2 separate regions of the Homo sapiens genome follow, and region 2 is linked to region 1. A link means that fine-mapping ties the variant in region 1 to the expression of a gene that starts in the linked region. Tissue or cell type: whole blood. Region 1 holds a variant in brackets; the other region holds the start of a gene. All regions are shown on one strand. Distances are from middle to middle.

Region 1 (5,647 bases):
GCCAGGGCAGGGATGGCCCCGTGGGAAGGGAGCTGCACCGTGCTGATGGTGACCGTGGGCATGGCTGCTGCTGTCTGTGCTGCCGCGGCTGCCACGCCCCACCTGTCTGGTGCCTGTGTGCTCAGGCAGAGTGCCCTGACCTCTGTTATTTGGGGGTCTCTGCCACAGGGGTCAGGCCCACTCTAAGCACTGGTCAGCTGGTATCTGAGCTGGGCAGGTGGGGCAGCATGGAAAAGGCATGGAGCTGCTGTTACCTCAGAGATGGTTGGTTTCTTAAGTTGAGTGATGGGCATGTGGATATTAGTACGTTGTTCTCTTTCTTTTCGTTTTCTTTTTTTATTTTCCTCTTGAGACAGGGCCTTGCTCTGTCGTCCAGGCTGGAGTGCTGGGATCACAGGTGCAGGCCATCACGCCAGGCTAATTTTTAAAACCCTTTGTAGAAATGGGGTTTTGCTGTCTTGCCCAGGCCAGTCTCGAACTCCTGGGTTCAAGAAATTCTCCCATCTTGGCCTCTCAAAGTGCTGGGATTACAGGTGTGAGCCCCCGTGCCCAGCCAGAATTGTTTCTTTCTCTCTATGGGGCCCTCCCTGCTGCACCCGTCCCACAGCAGTTGCTGACGCTTGTTTGCATCCTGTCCTTAATGCGTCCCCACCCTGCCCCACATGCCTTCTCTGCCCCTCAGTTTTGCTTCCACAGCCCGTGCAGGGATCAGGCAGCCAAGCCTTGGTCCCCACACGCCACAGGAAGTAAAGCTGTACCTGTGTCCCGTTCTCCCCAGGCCACGGCAGAGACAACGTGTGTACCCCAAGTGCACATGGCTGACCACCCCTAAAAGCACCTGGCCCCGCTACAGCAAACCAGGTGAGGGTCTGCAGATGCTGCTGGGGATGGAGGGTTGGGGGGCGTTGTCTGTGCACTGGCCCCGGTACAGCAAACCAGGTGAGGGTCTGCAGAGGCTGCTGGGGGTGGAGGGCGGCGGGGGGGTGTGTTCTGTGCACTGGCCTGCGCTGGGCACCAGGGGCGTCAGTGCCTCTTGAGCCGAGACTCTTTGCTCCAGGAGCGCTCCAGGAGTGTGCAGTGTGTGACTGTTTGTTGCCACACTGAGGGCCTGAGTGCTGGAGGCCTGGCCCAGTACCTCAACACGGAGCCTCCCAGGCACAGTCTTTGTGTGACTGTCTTTTAACGCAGGTTCTTCCTACCATTCTGCCATCGACCTTTCCCTTATGGAAGCAATCGAGTTCATTTTAAACTGCAATATTTTGTATATTATTGCAAACTAATAAGTGATTTTAAGATGAATTGCAACAGTGAAGACAGGCATGGAGTGTTGGGTGCTTGGTTGTGTGGTGTGGGGAAGTGTCAGGAGGCCTTCCACACTGGCCTCCACTCTGCAGTGGCTGAACTGTGGGGGCCCTCAGGGGCCAGGGCAAGGACAGCTTGTGGGAAGGGAGCTGTGTGGTGCCCTTGGTGATCGGCATGGCTGCTGCTGTCAGCGCTGCCATGGCTCCCACGGCCGCTTCTCCTGCGCCTGTGTCTGTGGGGGTGCCGGAGATTGCCTGCATACATTCTGTAAGGACACATCTAGGAGCGAGGCCTGTGCTGTCAGAAGGTGAACCCCGCTGCTCACGGCCCCTTCCCTTCCTGGCAGGAACCCCTGCTCACTGCAGACAGGGGTTCCATGGCCATGTATTCCTGCAGGACTGGGGCCTTGGGCAGGGCCATCAAGAAGGTATCACTACAGGGGACCTAGTCCATGGAGGTCCTGGGAGGCTGAGCTTTCCAGGTTTATCAGAAGAAACTGGGTCCCATACACCCAGTCAGACAAGAGGAGCCAAGTGAGAGGGTGGTCACACGTTACAAAGCTCTGTGGCTTCAGAGGCCTGGCGCTGTGGCCACCTGTGCCACCGCACTCCAACCCTGTCCTTCCACAGCCACCCCGGACATTCTCCTCAATCAGACGTGGTCTGGGGACAGTGCTCGGCGTGGTCAGATCTGGCGATCTGTGGACTGTGTGTGTCCTTGTCCCTGACATTCCCTCCAGGCCAGTGGGGCTAGAGCTGTATCCGAGTTCTGGAGGCAAACACGTCTTGATAGGAAACTAAAGCAGACGGGATGCCGTCTCCTGGTGTAGACCAGACGGCGGGTGTTTTGGGAAGGTGTCCGGAGCTGGTGACACCCATGAGTACACACTCAGGTCAAGTTTGTCGATATCGCAGAGGCCTCATCCAGAACACCACGAAGGTGAGGGCTGTGCTCGGAGCTGCCCACGTCCCTGCTCCCGGCACACCCTCCCTGAGCACTCTCCCCTCCCAGGTCTGTCCATGCGGCTGCTGGAATCAAAAAAAGGCCTCTCCTTCTTTGCGTTTGAGCACAGTGAGGAGTACCAGCAGGCTCAGCACAAGTTCCTGGTGGCCGTGGAGTCTATGGAGCCGAACAACATCGTGGTGCGTGGTCCCTGCAGCCCCTGACAGGAGCAGGGGCCATGTAGCCACCACTGCCCTGGGCCGCCTGCTTCCCTGGTGGCTGGGGGAGGCATGCTGCCTCCTGCCCTTCCCAACAGGAAGGGTGCCAGTCTCTGCAGGGCGGTCTGGCCCTGTGACCAGAAGGAGATGTGTTCGGAGGCTCTAGGCCAAGCGAGCTCCATCCATACTCAGAGGAGAGGCTGGAGCGCTGCTCTCTCAGCCGTTCCTGGGGACCGTCGCAGTAGTGCCGTGTGATGCAGGCCCAGGACTCTGGGGCTTCTCACTGCTGCCCTTGCCTCCTGCGGCTCAGTGCAGGCGAGCAGCTCAGATTCCCGGCCCCCGTGCAGCCCCCGGACGGCCCCCACACGGCCCCGGACGGCCCCCGCGCAGCCCCAGACAGCCCCGGACCTGGACAGTCCCCGTACAGCCCCGGTGCAACCCTGGACAGCCCTCATGCAGCCCCTGGACAGCTCCCCTTGCAGCCCCGGACGGCCCCCGCGCAGCCCCAGAC[A/G]GCCCCCGGGCGGCCCTCACGCAGCCGCCGGACAGCTCCCCTTGCAACCCCGGACAGCCTCCGCAGAGCTCCCCGTCATCTCCCTGTGGGAAAAGCAGGCTGCTGCTTTCCATTCCTCTTTCTTGGGGCTTAGTGGGGAGTTAGGTGGCCCCTGGCCTGGGCATGTCAGGTTCTGAGTTCTTGCTTTAAGTCATATAATTGGTTCAGCTTAGCAATAATAACTAGCCTATTTTGAGTTGGGGGGACGTTGTGAGTGTCGACCCGGTAATTCCCCCGTTTTTGTTTTTGTTTTTGGAGTCGGAATCTCACTCTGTCGCCTAAGCTAGAGTGCATTGGCGCAGTCTCGGCCCGGGTTCAAGCGATTCGCCTGCCTCAGCCTTCCGAGTAACTGGAATTACAGGCACACGCCACCACACCCGGCTAATTTTTGTATTTTTATTAGAGACCAGGTTTTGCCACGTTGGCCAGGCTGGTCTTGAACTCCTGATATCAAGTGATCCTCCTGCCTCAGCCTCCCAAAGTGGTGGGATTACAGGCGTGAGCCACTGCGCCCAGCCTCCGCTGGTTTTAAATGTCTGAAAAAAAGGCATGCCTGGGAGCTGGGGCCTTGCTGAGTGCCTTTCCTCCAGGGCTGTCCTCCCTTCTGGTAGGTTCTGCTCCAGACGAGCCCTTACCACGTTGACTCACTCCTGCAGCTCAGCGATGCCTGCCGCTTTCAAGAGGATCAGGAGATGGCTCGAGACCTCGTAGGTAAGGCAGAGCCCCCACCCCATTCCCCTCAGCTGTGGGAGCACCTCAAGCTATCAAGACAGATGCGATGGTGTAAGATGACAGGGGTTGCCAGGATATCCATGACAGCTTTATTGAGATACAACCTACGTAGCACAAAACTTACCCATTTAAAGTTTTTGTTTGTTGGTGTTTAATATATGCCACAGCCTCCCGAGTAGCTGGGACTACAGGCGCCCGCCACCAGACCTGGCTAATTTTTTGTATTTTTAGTAGAGATGGGGTTTCACCGTGTTGGCCAGGATGGTCTCGATCTCCTGACCTTGTGATCCACCCACCTCAGCCTCCCAAAGTGCTGGGATTACAGGCATGAGCCACCACGCCCCGCCCTCTGGCTTTTATTTACAATGAAGTTTTCAAGGTTCATCCTCACTGTAGCGTCGATCAGAACGTCGTTCGTTTTTATGGCTTAGTAATACTCCACTGTGTGGACGGACCACATGTTGTGTATCCATCATTAGTTGACGGCCGTGTGGGCTGTTGTAAATAATAGTGCTTACGTCAGCATGCACACGCAGTCTTAGGTGGACACATCTGTGCTGCACACATGGACGCCTGGTTCTGTCAGGACGTGGCAGCAGTTGTGCCTCATGGTGTTGAAAGTGTTACCATGTCAAGCTCACAAGTTCTGTGGTTGAAATAAATGCAGCGTGGCATCCAGGGTGCCCAGGGGCATGTCTGCCCTCTCAGTGTCCAGGACTCTAGTTTCGTGACCTTCCGTCCAGACCTTTCCTTGTTGTCCATTATCAGAGGAGGGGCCGTGGTTGCTGTGTGTGGCCATGACACCCTCCCCTGGCGTCCCTGTGCCCACAGAGAGAGCGCTGTACAGCATGGAATGTGCGTTCCACCCCCTGTTCAGTCTCACCAGTGGGGCCTGCCGGCTGGATTACCGCAGACCCGAGAACAGGTGAGTGCAGCTGCCCTGGAGGTGACGCAGCTCCCCTTCCCTTCTCCTGCGAGTGAGGCTGGGGGAGGTGCAGTGGGCACCTCATGGCTGCCCTCCAGGGTGGACCAGGGCCCACAGGTCCAGAGTGACCCACCTTCCTCTCTCTGGGCTTAAGGATAGAGGGATGGGATTGTCTCAGCCCAGGTTTACCTTTGTCTGTGGACATGCCTGATGCTACTGTGGAGGTCAGAGTGGGAGGTCTGCTGAGCCCAGGAGTTCAAGTCCAGCCTGGGCACCATAGTGAGACCCCCATCTCTTAAAAAAATAAAAATAAAAATAAATGTTTGTGTTAGAAGTGAGCCTGGCTGGGCACAGTGGTTCACGCCTGTAATCCCAGCACTTTGGGAGGCCGAGGTGGGAGGGTTGCTTGAGCCCAGGTGTCAAGACCAGTCTGAGCACCGTGGCAACATGCAGTCTCAAAACAGCATTTTTTTTTTTTTTTTTTTTTTGAGACGGAGTCTCACTCTGTCACCCAGGCCGGAGTGCAGGGGCGCGATCTCGGCTCACTGCAAGCTCCACCTCCCGGGTTCAAGCCATTCTCCTGCCTCAGGCTCCCGAGTAGCTGGGCCTACAGGCACGTGCCACAACGCCTGGCTAATTTTTTGTATTTTCTAGTAGAGACGAGGTTTCACTGTGTTGGCCAGGATGGTCTCCATCTCCTGACCTTGCGATCCACCCGCCTCGGCCTTCCAAAATGCTGGGATTACAGGCGTGAGCCACCGCGCCCGGCCACTACAGAACATTTTAAAAACTAGCTGCGCCTGGTGGCGCGTGCCTGTGGTCCCAGCTACTTGGGAGGTTGAGGCGAGAGTATCACTCAAGTGAGCCCAGGAGGTCGAGGCTGCAGTGAGCTGAGATGGTACCAGTGCACTCCAGCCTGGGCAGCAGAGTGAGACCTTGTCTCTCAAAAAAAAAAAAAGAAGAAGAAGAAGAAGTGAG
Region 2 (5,324 bases), 20 kb before region 1:
AGAGGCTCCTGAAGATGCTGGGCGGTCCTGGCACAGGGAGGAGCAGCTCTGTAAATCTGTGCACATGGCCACTCTTGGCCTAATAAAGGAGGTCTCACAGTCTTCTGTCTGGGATGTGCGCTGAGGATTCACCCAGCATGGCATGTTCTCCCAAGGTTGAAGCTGGGCTTGAGGGGCCACCTGCCTTCCAGGACGAGGAAAGGCCTCCTGGCTTAGAGTCAGGTGCCCACCAGGCAAGGGCTCCAGGCCTGCTCTGTCCACGCAGCCCTGGCTGCCTCTACCAGCTTCGTGGTCCTGGCCACCATGGTCAGGGCTGCATGCGGACGGCACAGACTACTGCCCATCAGCTCCTCTGGCCACACCTGCTGGCCTGGGGGGTACTTTGGTCTCATTTCCCAGATCCGTATTCTCGTTCTCCAGGGAGAGGATCCACAGGGGCAGGAGGTGTGACTGCAGGCTCTAGACAGGCCCTGTGCCGAGTGCTGTCTGCTCACCTGCGCCCGGCTCAGCCTGTTAACGGGGCCCTGCCCTGCTCCTCCGTGACGTTCTGCCGTCATCTTACCTTACAGATGAGGGAACTGAGGCTCAACGAGGTCAAAGAATTTGGCCAAAGATACACAGCTCACCCAGAACTTTGACTCCAGGCTGTAATGCTAGCCGTGGGGCCTGGAGGTCAGAAGGGACAGGACTTGTAACTGATGGGCCTGCGGGAGAAAATACTCCTGTCAGCTGGGGTCCAGGAAATCCAAACACACAAAATTAGAGCCCCCAGTAAAAACAGCCAGCTTCTAGCATGCGTGTAAGCATTTCACGGACTCTCTGGCCTGTATTTTTATTCCTGTTTAAAAATAAGAAAACAGGCACAGAGAGGGTCAGGGAACTCCTCCGGTCACACAGCCAGCAATAAGCTAATGTGTAGTGCTTGGTAAGGACGACGGTTGTTCTGGTTCTACGGGGACTCACACTCCCTATCATGGGGAGACTGGGTTGTAATTCATACAGGAACACTTGGAAATGAAAGCCCACGTTAAAACCCTAAACCACGGCAGGTGCAGTGGCTCACACCTGTAATCCCAGCACTTTTGGAGGGTGAGGTGGGCAGATCACTTGAGGTCAGGAGTTCGAGACCAGCCTGGCCAACATGGTGAAACCCCATCTCTACTGAGTACAAAAATTAGCCGGGCATGGTGGCACATGCCTGTAGTCCCAGCTACTCGGGAGGCTGAGACAGGAGAAGTGCTTGAGCCTGGGAGATGGAGGTTGCAGTGAGCCGAGATTGCGCCACTGCACTCCAGCCTGGGCAACAGAGCAAGACCTCATCTCACAAAATAAAATAAAACCCTAACCCATCCTGGGAGGGGCCAGGCCGGCTCACCAGGGCTGCTGCTTGTGCTCATGAAGCCGCAGTAAGTCGGGCAGGAGGCTGCTGGCACCTGTCTTCTCTATGCCCTCCTGTCCCCATGTCCCCAACCCCAGGCACAGGAAGCTGTGCCCTCCGCCCACTGAACCCAGCACTGTCTCAGCCTCATCTACTTTATTTTTTTCATTTTTTTGAGACAGGGTCTGGCTCTGTCGCCCAGGCTGGAGTGCAGTGGCGCGATCTCGGCTCACTGCAGCCTCAGCCTCCCGAGTAGCTGGGATTACAGGCGTGCGCAGCCACGCCCAGCTAATTTTTGTATTTTTAGTAGAGGGAGTTTCACCGTGTTGCCCAACCTGGTCTCGAATTCCCGACCTCAGGTGATTCGCCCACCTTGGCCTCCCAAAGTGCTGGGATTACAAGCGTGAGCACCGCGCCCGGCCCTTAGATCGTGACAAACGCGGGCGGCCTGTCCTAGAACTGTCAGAACCACTGTCCCTAAAGAGGCCTCGGGCGGGCAGTAAGGGCCGCGTCACTCAATGCTGCTCGAGGGGCGGCGGCTCCAGGGCAGAGGCGGGCATCGACGGCTAGATCACTCGAATGACACCCTGACACGAAAAGGACCAACTAGCAACGTCCGGGACGCAGCTGAAATGCTGCAGGCACGGTGCGGGGACAGGCCCCGGCGGGCAGAACGCGGCTGCGGGTTCCGGGCCACATGGATGGGCAAGGCCGGGCAGGGCCGACTGTCGCCGGCTGCGCGCCCGTTACCCCGAATCGAAGCCCGTCATCCCCGCGGGGCACCTCTCCATGCCCGGTGCGCACGGCGCGCAGACACCCAGCTCTCCAGAGACCTGGCCCGGACCCCCCGGAGCCCGCCCAGACGCCGCCGCTGAAGCGGGAAAGTTCCGGAGAGCCGCGACGCGCAGGCGCCGCAGCCAGGTCCTGCCCCCACCCCTCGCGCCAAGAGTGCGCAGGCGCGCAGCCAGCTCCCCCGCCCCCGACCCCGCGCGAAGAGTGCGCAGGCGCGCCGACAGCCGAGTTTTCTGCGCTTCCTTCTCCCTCTCTCCAGACGTCGTGGTCGTTCGGTCCTATGTCGCGCCGGGCCCTCCGGAGGCTGAGGGGGGAACAGCGCGGCCAGGAGCCCCTCGGGCCCGGCGCCTTGCATTTCGATCTCCGTGATGACGATGACGCGGAAGAAGAAGGGCCCAAGCGGGAGCTTGGTGTCCGGCGTCCCGGGGGCGCAGGGAAGGAGGGCGTCCGAGTCAACAACCGCTTCGAGCTGGTGAGGAGCGCGGCGGCCCGGGTGGGGGTGGGGTGGCCCTTGACGTTGTGGGGCGGGGCGAGCGTCCAGCCGGGTCGGGGAGCGGGGTTGTGATGCCAGGGGTGGGAAGGGTGACGTGGGTCCCAGCCGCAGTGGGGAGGGCGGGGCCGTGCGTCGGGGCCAGGGCGACGCGGGTGGGCGGTGGCGTGGGGTGAAGACGGCGGGCCGCGGAGTTAGACTGGGTTCTAACCCCGGTGAGGTGGGCGGGGCTAAGGGATGGGGCGGGGCCGTGCTGTCGGGGCGGGGCGACCGAATGGGCGGGGTTAAGCGGGGTCCGGGTTGTGGAGGGTGCGGGGCCTTGATGCCAAGGGCGTGGCCAACGTCCGCGGGGCCGGGCCACGACGTGGGCGGGATTAAATGGGCCTGCGGCCACGTGGCTGTCGTGGGGCCGTGACGCTAAAGGGCGTGGCTAAAGACGGGGGGGTGGCGAGGCGATGGCGTGGGCGGGGTTAAATGAGGCCTGGGGCCACCGTGGGGGTGGGGCCACGGCGTAGGGGCAGGAGTCGGGTGGGGCTTCCCTTTCTCGAGTCTAGAGGGGCCTTCTCTCGGTTCCAGGGTTGAGGACTTGCCAGGCCTCTGCGAGCATTCTGCTTTAATCCTCACAACAACTCTGCCTAACCCAGGGCCTTGCTCTTCGCGCATCCCCATCAGCCTAACCCAGCGGATTAGTCTTACTCTTTGCTGCATCTCCGGCAGCTCGTTTCTGGCACAGGGAAGTAACAGTTTGACTGTATGGTTTGCTCATGCGGTCCTGTGACGTTTTCTCCTAAGCCCTGGCCTCCGTCTGTAACTCTGCCTCTGCGGGCTCTGCGATCCTCCCACCTCAGCCTCCTGAGTATCTAGGACTACAGGTGGATGTCACCACGCCCGGCTAATTTTTTTTTTTTTTCTTTTTTGTAGAGAAGAGTTTTCGCCTTGTTGCCCAGGCTGGTCTAGAACTTCTGCGCTCAAACAATCTGTCCACCTCAGCCTCACAAAGTGCTGGGACTACAGGCGTGAGTCACCATGCTTGGTTGACTGCCCTTCTCGCATCAAGTCCACCTTTAGTGGTCCCCAAGACCCCCGTCAAGGTTCAGTAATTTGCTAGATTCACAGCAGTTACTGAAAGCTTTTTGTTTTGAGATGGAATCTTGCTCTGTTGCCCAGGCTGGAGTGCATTGGCACAATCCTAGCTCACTGCAACCTTGAACTCCTGGGCTCAAATAGTCCTCTCACCTTGGCCTCTCAGAGTGTTGGCATTAGAGGCATGAGCCACTGTGCTTGGCCCCGTAAGTCTTTTTAAATTTTTGTCAATGTAATTTGTGAAAAATGATATCACATTATTTTATTTTACACTTCTTTGGTAGTGAAATGCAGCACCTAGCTATGTATTCGTTGACCATTTATATTTCTCTTTGTGACAACCTGTTTATATCTTTGCCTTTTTATAGGGGGTTTGGACAGTCTTTTTGCTCGTGGAAGCTTGCTATCGATTGTCTCTAACGTATTTTCTCGGTTTGTGTTTGTTCTTTAACTTCTTTAATTTCTGCGTGCTGAAAGATACTGGAGCCACTTTTCTCATTGTTACACATCCATCTCTCTAGAGTGTCTTCACATAGATATTCCCTGACGTGAGTTTTTTTTTTTTTTTTTTTTTTTTTTTGAGATGGAGTCTCGCTCTGTCGCCCAGGCTGGAGTGCAGTGGCATGATCTCGGCTCACTGCAAGCTCCGCCTCCTGGGTTCACGCCATTCTCCTGCCTCAGCCTCCCAAGTAGCTGGGAACACAGGCGCCCGCCACCACGCCTGGCTAATTTTTTGTATTTTTAGTAGAGATGGGGTTTCACCATGTTAGCCAGGATGGTCTCGATCTCCTGACCTCGTGATCCGCCTGCCTCGGCCTCCCAAAGTGCTGGGATTACAGGCGTGAGCCACTGCGCCTGGCTTTTTTTTTTTTTTTTTTTTTTTTTTTTGGTTACAGACAGGGTCTCACGGTGTTGCCCAGGCTGGTTGCTGGTCTTGAACTCCTGGGTTCAGGTTATCCTCCTGCCTCAGCCTCCTGAGCAGCTGGGACTACAGCATACCCTACCATGCTCAGCTTGTTCTTTTAATGCTTTTTTTTTCCCATTTAAATATTTAATCTTTTTGGTATTTATATTTGTGTTGGTGGGAATTTGGAAAAAGTGTGGTTCATGAGTTGACAGAGTAAGAGTCTGTAAGGTCAGAAACCACACAAACCCTTGTGGACTTTCTGGAGTGAGTTTGAGTGTCAGTAACACTAACAGCCTCCATGGATGAATGACTGCTTATCGTGCTGTGTTCTTAGGAATTTCAGAGAATTTTATCCAGTGGCACACATCAGTCTTAATTTAAGCATTCCATACTTTTTTGCTCTTAAAACTCATATTTGGAAATAATATAATCAAAATGTTTATTGGCATTCTGTTAAATAGCTCTTAATAAACAGAAGTATGGGAGACAGTAAACAGCCAGTTACGACTAAATGGTTATGAATGTGAATGCATTGGTGAGAGACATGGTGTTTCTCTTTTTAAAAAATTTTATTTATTTAGAGACAAGATCTCTTTATGTTGCCTAGGTTGGTCTTAAACTCCTGGGCTCAAGAGATCCTTCCGCCTTGGCCTCCCAAAGTGCTGGAATTGCAG

Evidence for each region. PIP is the estimated chance that this variant, and not a neighbour inherited with it, causes the effect.
Region 2: it holds the start of TCF25, and the variant in region 1 is fine-mapped to the expression of TCF25 in whole blood (INTERVAL, PIP above 0.99). The same link has a PIP of 0.9 or more in monocytes after LPS.

The regions. Positions count from the first base shown.
Region 1 is chr16:89,891,415-89,897,061 of GRCh38, forward strand. It overlaps TCF25 (TCF25 ribosome quality control complex subunit), which reads left to right. Exons shown (of 18, transcript NM_014972.3): 6 at 779-861; 7 at 2,314-2,444; 8 at 3,624-3,723; 9 at 4,576-4,669. Among named protein-coding and RNA genes, the nearest start is that of TCF25, 21 kb to the left of the region's middle. The variant A/G (reference allele first, on the strand shown) is at 2,974.
Region 2 is chr16:89,871,218-89,876,541 of GRCh38, forward strand. It overlaps TCF25 (TCF25 ribosome quality control complex subunit), which reads left to right and starts at 2,375. Exons shown (of 18, transcript NM_014972.3): 1 at 2,375-2,642. The coding sequence starts at 2,451. It overlaps SPIRE2 (spire type actin nucleation factor 2), which reads left to right. Exons shown (of 15, transcript NM_032451.2): 15 at 1-102. LOC112268179 (a long non-coding RNA gene) reads right to left here and starts at 2,271. Exons shown (of 2, transcript XR_002957933.2): 1 at 1,751-2,271; 2 at 1-704. RefSeq lists enhancers at 1,133-2,089, 1,860-2,019 and silencers at 2,100-2,219, 2,690-3,159.